Regions from separate parts of the Homo sapiens genome. Here region 1 is linked to region 2. The links come from fine-mapping of genetic effects on gene expression. A gene starts in region 2. The other region holds a variant in brackets. All regions are shown on one strand. Distances are from middle to middle.

Region 1 (4,273 bases), 26 kb after region 2:
ACCATGCCCAACTAATTTGTTAAATTTTTGTAGAGTGTATCAGATTTTTGATGAGGTCTCACTGTGTTGCCCAGGCTGATCTCAAATGTCTGACTGTAAGCAATCCTCTTGCTTGGCCTCCCAAAGTGCTGGGATTACAGGTGTGAGCCACTGTGCGCAGCCGTTAAATATTTTAAACCGTCACTGACTTTACCATAGCTTACTATTTATATAAATAATCCTGGGTTAAACTTGCATAGTGAGATAATATTTCCCCCAACTTTTATTTATTTATTTGAGATGGAGTCTTGCTCTGTCGCCCAGGCTGGAGTGCAGTGGCGCAATCTCGGCTCACTGCAGTCTCCGCCTCCCAGGTTCAAGCATTTCTCCTGCCTCAGCCTCCCAAGTAGCTGGGATTACAGGCACACGCCACTGTGCCCGGCTAGTTTTTATATTTTTGGTAGAGACAGGGTTTTGCCACGTTGGCCAGGCTGGTCTTGAACTCCTGGTCTCAGGTGATCCACCCGCGTCGGCCTCCCAAGGTGCTGGGATTACAGGCATGAGCCACTGCATCCGGCCTAATTTTTGTATTTTTAGTAGAGACGGGGTTTCACCATGTTAGTGAGGCTGGTCTTGAACTTCTGACCTTGTGATCTGCCCACCTCGGCCTCCCAAAGTGCTGGGATGACAGACGTGAGCCACCATGCTTGGCCTCCCCCAGCTTCTAGTTTTAAAAATGTTCAGCTGGTGCAGTGGCTCATGCCTGTCATCCCAGCACTTTGGGAAGCTGAGGTGGGTGGATCACTTCAGGCCAGGAGTTCGAGGCCAGCCTGGCCAACATGGTGAAACCTCGTCTCTACTAAAAATACAAAAATTAGCCAGGCTTGGTGGCTTGCGCCCGTAATCCCAACTGCTCGGGAGGCCTAGGTGGGAGAATCGCTTGAACCTGGGAGACAGAGGTTGCAGTGAGCTGAGATCGCTCCACTGTACTCCAATGTGGGTGACAGGGTGAAACTCTGTCTCAGAAAAAAATAAAAAAGAAAATGTGCAAATCTACAGAAAGATTAAAAAGTACCCTGTAGTTACAGAAAGATTTTTTTAAAAAATACCCTGTAGCCCTTAAACAATTTCTAACATAATGTCCTGTTAGCTTTCTCTCTTTTTTTCGTGAATCATATGAAAATCATTTGCAAACATCATGACCCTTCACCCCTAAATACTTCTGTATGCATCCTTAGGAATAAAGGCACTCTTTTCTATAGCTGTAATAAAAGTAACATACCTGAGAAAATGACAAGAATTCTACAATATTATCTAATAATCATGCCATAGTCAAAATCTCTAGTCATCCTCAAAATCTCCTTTGTAGATTTTTTTTGGTTTTCCAGTCCAGGATCCAATCCAGTTTTCTGCCTTTTAGTCAATTACTCATCAAATTATTTTTTCCAGCAACTTACTAGTAATAATGGTAATAGCCTTAGCTTTTATTAATAACAACCACTTTTCTTTTGAAATGTTAATATAAAACTAGATTTATTACCTACATAATCTTCATAATCTTCAAGTTAGGTATTATCACTACTTTACCTAATGAGGGAGGTTATGCTCAGGGTACTTGTCCAAGGCACATAGTGAGGTATGGTTGAGGTTTGAACTCAGATATATCTGATCCCAAAGCCAGCTGTCTTTTTCTGTGCTGGACTGACTATACTAGGAAACAATCAATGTGAACTTAGAAATGTTTGACCCAAAAGAAAAAAAATTTCACTCCTATTCATAGGCTAAATGAACTTTACTAAATATGGAAGATTCCTGTAGCCCGGAAGTTGGGTTAGTTAACTTTTGAGATCTCTGCCAACCCTGAAATTCTGTAACCCTTGTTTCTTACATCTGCCTCATACATGGATTACCAAAGATGTATATGCATATAATATTTAACAGTTTTATTGAGATAAAATTCACATACTATATTATTCACCCACTTAATGTATACAATTTTGTAGTTTTGTGTGTGTGTGTGTGTGTGTGTATTTTTGAGATGGAGTCTCACTCTGTCACCCAGGCTGGAGTGCAGTGGCACGATCACTGCAACCTCTGCCTCCTGGGTTCAAGTGATTCTGTGGCCTCAGCCTGTTGAGTAGCTGGGATTACAGG[C/T]GCCCACCACCATGCCCGGCTGATTTTTGTGTTTCAGTAGAGATGGGGTTTCACCGTGTTGGTCAGGCTGTTCTCGAACTCCTGGACTCAAGTTATCTGCCCACCATGGCCTCCCCAAAGTGCTGAGATTACAGGCGTGAGCCATCGCGCCCGGCAGTTTTCGTATATTGATGGAGTTGTGCAAACACCACCTCATTCAATTTTAGAACATTTTTATCACCTGAAAAAGAAACGCTGTATCCTTTAGCCATACTTCCCCCTTCCTCCCTAACTCCCCCAGCTCTAGGCAACCAGGGATCTACTGTCTATTTAGATTTGTCTGTTTGGGTCATCTCATATAAATGGAATTACATAACATGTCTTTTGTGTGTGGCTTCAATTTTTTTATTTTTTTGAGATGGAGTCTTGCTCTGTCACCCAGGCTGGAGTGCAGTGGCATGATCTCAGCTCACTGCAACTTTTGCCTCCTGGGTTCAACTGATTCTCTTGCCTCAGCCTCCCAGGTAGCTGGGATTACAGGCTCCTGCCACCATGCCTGACTAATTTTTGTATTTTTTACTAGAGTCGGGGTTTCACTATGTTGGCCAGGCTGTTCTCAAACTCCTGACCTCAAGTGATCCACCTGCCTCGGCCTCCCGAAGTGCTGGGATTAAAGACATGAGCCACCACGCCCAGCCTGTGTGTGGCTTCTTTCACTTAGAATAATGTTTCCAAGGTTCATCTGTGTTGTAGCATGTATCTGTATCTTATTTATTTTTATTGCTGAATAGTATTCCATTGTATGGATAAACTGCATTTTGTTTATTCATTGATTAGTTGTTGATGGACATTTGGGTTGTTTCCACTTTTTAGCTATATTTACATTACTGCTTGTGTTTTCATTTCTCTTGGTTATATACTAGGAGCAGAATTGCTGGGTCATATGGTACTTCTACTTTTAACCTTTGAGGACCTGCCAGACTGTTTTCTAAAGTGGTTTTACCATTTTACATTCTCATCAGCATATGTGAGGGTTCTGGATTTCTCTACATCCTCACCAGTATTTGTCTTTGATCATAGTCATCCTAGTGGGTATACAGGGGTGTCTCATTGTGGGGGTTTTTTTCCCCATTGGGGTTTTGATTTGCATTTCCCTGATGGAGATAAATATATTTTTTGTGTGTCCCCCCACAAACTGCCTGGTTCTGATGAGACCAGTGTTCTTACAGAGAATAACTTTGCTTTGAAACAAAACAAACAAACAGCCTTTTGACTTGGGTAACCTTTGGAGTATGTTAATTGTGATTTACTCTGGCCTTGTAACATTGTAAGTGGAGATTTTGTTTAAAAACTGCGTTCGCTGAAACAAGTAATAAGGTTCAGACCTATTGTTACAAGTTCTGAGTTTTCTTTCATATAAATATGTTTGTTCTTTTGTGTGGATAAAACCTAACGTGGCAAAAAGGTGTCAAACACCTAAGTATTAAGGAAACTAAAATGAAAATGCTGCATGAACAGAAACCTTGTCCAATTTTCATTACTATAGCACCATCACCTATAACAGTGCCAGTGTACAGTAGATATTACATAATATTTTTGAATGAATGAGTGGAAAATGATATGCATTTTTCTCTTCTGCATCCTCTGAAAGATTTCACAACGTGCAAAGTATGTAAGGCTTTATTTATATACAGATAAAATAATCAGAGTTTATAATCTATGTATTTACTTTCCTGCATAGAAACTCCATATGATTAAAAATTGAGATTATTTATTTTAATAACATGACTAATCAGTTTACTTAACCTAGAAATGAATGTTATCTAAGAACAAGCAAAGAATGTTAGAAGAATTTAGTGTTTAGGAATTATTATTGTTTTCCATCTCAGTCGTATATATTTTCTGTTTTAGCCACTTTGGAGATTTGTTAATGATACCAAAGACAAAAGAATGTTAGTTTATAAATCTGAAGATATCAAGAATGTTTCACGTTTGCAGTCTCCAAAAGTGTGTGGTTATTTAAAAGTGGATAATGAAGAGTTGCTCCCAAAAGGGTTAGTAGACAGAGAACCACCTGAAGGTAAGACTTAAAGAGTGTATTTCAAATAAGAAACAAACATACTACAATTGACTTCAGTAGGGGTGGTTGTTATTTGTTAAA
Region 2 (4,273 bases):
CCTAGGAGGTGTTCAGTCGGTTGTAGTGGGCCAAGATCACGCCATTGCACTCCAGCCTGGGCAATAAGAGCGAAACTCTTTCCCCCACCACCCCCCCCCAAAAAAAAGAAAAGAAAATGGATCGGGATTTTTTTTTTAAACGGCATTTACTAAACAGCTAAGTACCTTCTATGAGCAAGGCACTGTACAAGAGCTGTTGGGGATACCAAAATAATACAATCTACGATCTACTAAAGTTACAAGCCGGACATTATGGTGACTGGATGTTCAGAAAAGAAACCAGATGACATTATTATGGTACACCAAAAAAGCCCCCCAAAAACCGTACTCAACTGTCACATTCTTATGGAATACAATTTTTACAGATTGTATACAATTTGCATGTGAAATTCTGCTTACTTTTTGACTAGGTATGCCACTAATGGGTATGTTTAATAAAGATATTTTATACTTCAGATGTACAGACCAGGTCCGGTTAATTTTAGCCAACAATGTATTGTTGAAAAAGACGCTGATATTTTACTGCGGCAAACCACCATTAACATAAATTTTAACCACAGTTTGAGTATTTTATTAGGAATAAGCCTTGAAACTTGAATAGGACTAGTATTCCTAACAATTTACCGTTTCATAATAAAGGCTGTCTCACTCTTAAGTGGAAAACGTATTATGTCCTACTTTTATAAACTTTGGTTGAACTAAATAAAACAGCAACATGTACCCAACGTTTTTAGACTGTTTTATTCAGTACCATAAACATTCACTAAACTATACAGAGCTAAAATCATGCAAAAGATTGCAAAACAAACTGCCTTGGGAAATTTCCAGTCTAAGCTAAATGGACCAAGTATAGGATTGAATTTTAAGAAGTTGGTGGGAAGATTCCAGCTCTTGTACTCACAGGTAAGGTCCTAGGATTCTATTTGTTGAAGTGTCTGCAGACCCTCTCCCTACAGCAGGGGCGTGGAGCAAATGTGCATTCAGGAAGTGCTTATTAGTCCCCCCAAAACCTTTTTCGTGACGACAGACGGATGGAGGCCTCAGACGACTCCGGCAGTAGGACCCTGAACCAAATGCCTGAGCTGCGCTCGAAAGGCTCGTCTCGCAGGAGCTGGCGAGTGGCACGGGCTTCGGTGGCCGGGCTCGGGGCTCGGGGCTCGGGGCCCGGGGCCGGGGGGGGCGGGGGGTCCGTGCCCAGGGCACTCTGTGGCTCGATTCATGTCCCCGCCCTCCCACCTGAGCACACTGGGCAGAGAGCCTGCGGCATCGGGCCAGTCGCGCCTCCTCGTCCGCCCTGGGCAGGTCGCTGGGCCCCAGGCCGCTTTCTACAGCTCCTTTAATAAAATGGACAGCAGGGGTCCTAACCAGACGTGGGCATCAAGACAAAGGAGGCGGCCAGACGCGCTTGAGGGCCTGCTCGCTAGCTCCCGCCCCCCCATTCCGCGGTCACCCGGGGACAGAGGCCAGGCCGGACTGGGTGGAGTTGGGACTCATACGTCTGCGTCCAGGAAGGCGCCGGGCGAGCCCCAGCTAGACGTGACGGGCGGGGCCGAACACGGCAGCGGACCAGAGGCCCGCGGCGCACCGGCGTGGGGCGGGGCAAGCGGAGCCTCCCGGGATGCCGCGCGGCAGCCGGCTTCCGGCTGTGGGTGGTGCGGGGGACAGCGGCGGCCGGAAGCTGGCTGAGCCGGCCTTTGGTAACGCCACCTGCACTTCTGGGGGCGTCGAGCCTGGCGGTAGAATCTTCCCAGTAGGCGGCGCGGGAGGGAAAAGAGGATTGAGGGGCTAGGCCGGGCGGATCCCGTCCTCCCCCGATGTGAGCAGTTTTCCGAAACCCCGTCAGGCGAAGGCTGCCCAGAGAGGTGGAGTCGGTAGCGGGGCCGGGAACATGAGGCAGTCTCTCCTATTCCTGACCAGCGTGGTTCCTTTCGTGCTGGCGCCGCGACCTCCGGATGACCCGGGCTTCGGCCCCCACCAGAGACTCGGTAAAGACCCAGGGGAGTTGGCTTAGGCCGGCGCCTGGAGCGCTCGTTTGAGGGAAGAGCAGGGGAGCTGGGTCTATCAGGTGTTTGGGGGCGGGGTATTGGCGATGGTGGCGCGTCCCTAAGTTTTCAGTGTAGAAGGGGGTGTGGCTCTCGGAGTTTGGGGAAAGAATAAAGGAGATGGGCCTGTCTCTGAGTGGGAAAGGGCTACTGGACGGGCTCCATGTAGTGACTGAGCGCCTGAGAGGGGTTTGCTCCCTAGCTTTGTGTTCGGGGAGGGTGTTGGGAAAGCGGTAAGGAGTAGGGTGGCTGGATCTTGTTTGGAGAGGGAGATGTGGTCAGGGTTCTTGCCTTAGTAGGGAACAAATCTAGTGTTGTGTGTTCCTACCAGAGCCAGAAAGGAAGGGCCCAAAGCTCCAGAATTCTTCCTGGTCCTCGAAGGAGGGAACTAGAATTTCTGCTGTAGGAGGTACTTATGCAGTAATCTCGTTGGGAGGCGGAGACTGGAGTTGGAGTCTTAAGAGTTGTGTTTTTGCGAACATCCTAAGCACGTTCTTGGTTATTTCAATTGTAGCTTATTGGAGGTGCTTGGGAGATGGGGGGAGGCGGAAACCTGGTAAGCCAACTCGTGATGCTGCCACTATGAATGCTTTCCTTGCACTTTTAAACAAAGAAATTATCAAGAGTGACGAGTTTGATGAATTTAGAGGCTAGAAAGTAGAGGGTTCCTATTTCATTAGATTTTCCAGAGAGATTGGATTTTAAGGATGGAGATGCATTAAGGGATCTGAACTTTGGTGGAAGTAAGTTTGCGTGAACTTTTAGTGTATTTTAAAATCCTTTTATCTTTCAAAAATTGACGTGTAAGATACTTTAATTAGTAATAAAGTGTGAAATAATGTTTTCCCAGTGTGTGAAATTGTAGGCTTGCATGGTTGTACTGGTTCCCAAATTTCACCATGATACCATGTGTAGTATTTTTTTTCTTTATATTTAGTGGACAGAAATTGTAATGGATTGGTATGGATACTAAAGGTGTTGAGAGTGTTATCACTTGAACAGCTGTCTTATGATTCTTTCCGATTGAAATGGATTACAAGTGACTAATGAAAGGCAAGGGATCTTGTTAGGAAGTGCTGAGAAGTGGTAAGTCAGTACAAATTGAAGGACATTTTGAGGTAGGATTGTGGTTAGGATGGAGGGATAGGGTAAGGGTCTTCATTTTAAGGATAAATGTTAGTAAAAAGAATAAATATGTATTTTGAGATATTAAAATTATATTTGCACCACCCTGACACAACTGTTTCACTTATGTTATTAATCTGTTGTTCGTAGGTAAAAATAAGCATGAGTCCCAAGGAAGCATACAGTTTAAAGAGAAACATTACTTTCTAGATCAATTCATAACATTTGCAGATCGTAAGGTTTTTTAGACCATTTTTTTTTTCCAAGACAGAGTCTTGCTCTGTTGCCCAGGCTGGAGTGCAGTGGCGCGATCTCAGCTCACTGCAACCTCCGCCTCCCGGGGTTCAAGCAGTTCACCTGCCTTAGCCTCCTGAGTAGCTGGGATTACAGGCATGTGCCACCACGCCCAGCTAATTTTTGTATTCCTAGTAGAGACGGGGTTTCACCATGTTGGCCAGGCTGGTCTAGAACTCTTGACCTCGTGATCCGCCCACCTGGGCCTCCCTAAGTGCTGGGATTACAGGCATGAACCACCGCTCCTGGCCCATGTGTTTGTTTTTTATTTGCAAAATGCAGACCACCTGTGCCAGAAGAATGCATAGACTTTTCTTTTTTCTTTTCTTTTCTTTTTCTTTCTTTTTTTTTTTTTTTGAGGCAGTGTTTTGCTCTTGTTGCCCAGGCTGGAGTGCAATGGCGTCATCTCAGCTCACCACAACCTCCGCCTCCCGGGTTCAAGCAATTCTCCTGCCTCAGCCTCCCAAGTAGCTGGGATTACAGGCATGTGCCACCACGTCCGGCTAATTTTTTGTATTTTTAGTAGAGATGGGGTTTCTCCATGTTATTCAGGCTGGTCTCGAACTCCTGACCTCAGGTGATCAGCACACCTCGGCCTCCCAAAGTGCTGGGATTAAAGGCTTGAGCCACCAGGCCCGGCCTCTTTTTTTTTTTTTAAACGAAATATTTGAAGGACACACAAGTATTATACGTGGCATTGGAAATACAAAGATCAGACGATATCCATCTTCAAATGGTTATAGCATAGGGAAATAGACATTCATTTAGGACACTTCTAAAACAGCATAGAGGAGAGTGCTAGAGTACGTTAT

The links. PIP is the estimated chance that this variant, and not a neighbour inherited with it, causes the effect.
Region 1: its variant is the best candidate, but not a certain one, in a credible set for the expression of ADAM17 in whole blood (TOPMed, PIP 0.52).

What each region holds. Positions count from the first base shown.
Region 1 is chr2:9,527,705-9,531,977 of GRCh38, reverse strand. It overlaps ADAM17 (ADAM metallopeptidase domain 17), which reads left to right. Exons shown (of 19, transcript NM_003183.6): 5 at 4,024-4,192. Among named protein-coding and RNA genes, the nearest start is that of ADAM17, 26 kb to the left of the region's middle. The variant C/T (reference allele first, on the strand shown) is at 2,134.
Region 2 is chr2:9,553,221-9,557,493 of GRCh38, reverse strand. It overlaps ADAM17 (ADAM metallopeptidase domain 17), which reads left to right and starts at 1,664. Exons shown (of 19, transcript NM_003183.6): 1 at 1,664-1,985. The coding sequence starts at 1,889. RefSeq lists silencers at 740-1,034, 1,006-1,225, 1,456-1,745, 2,360-2,654.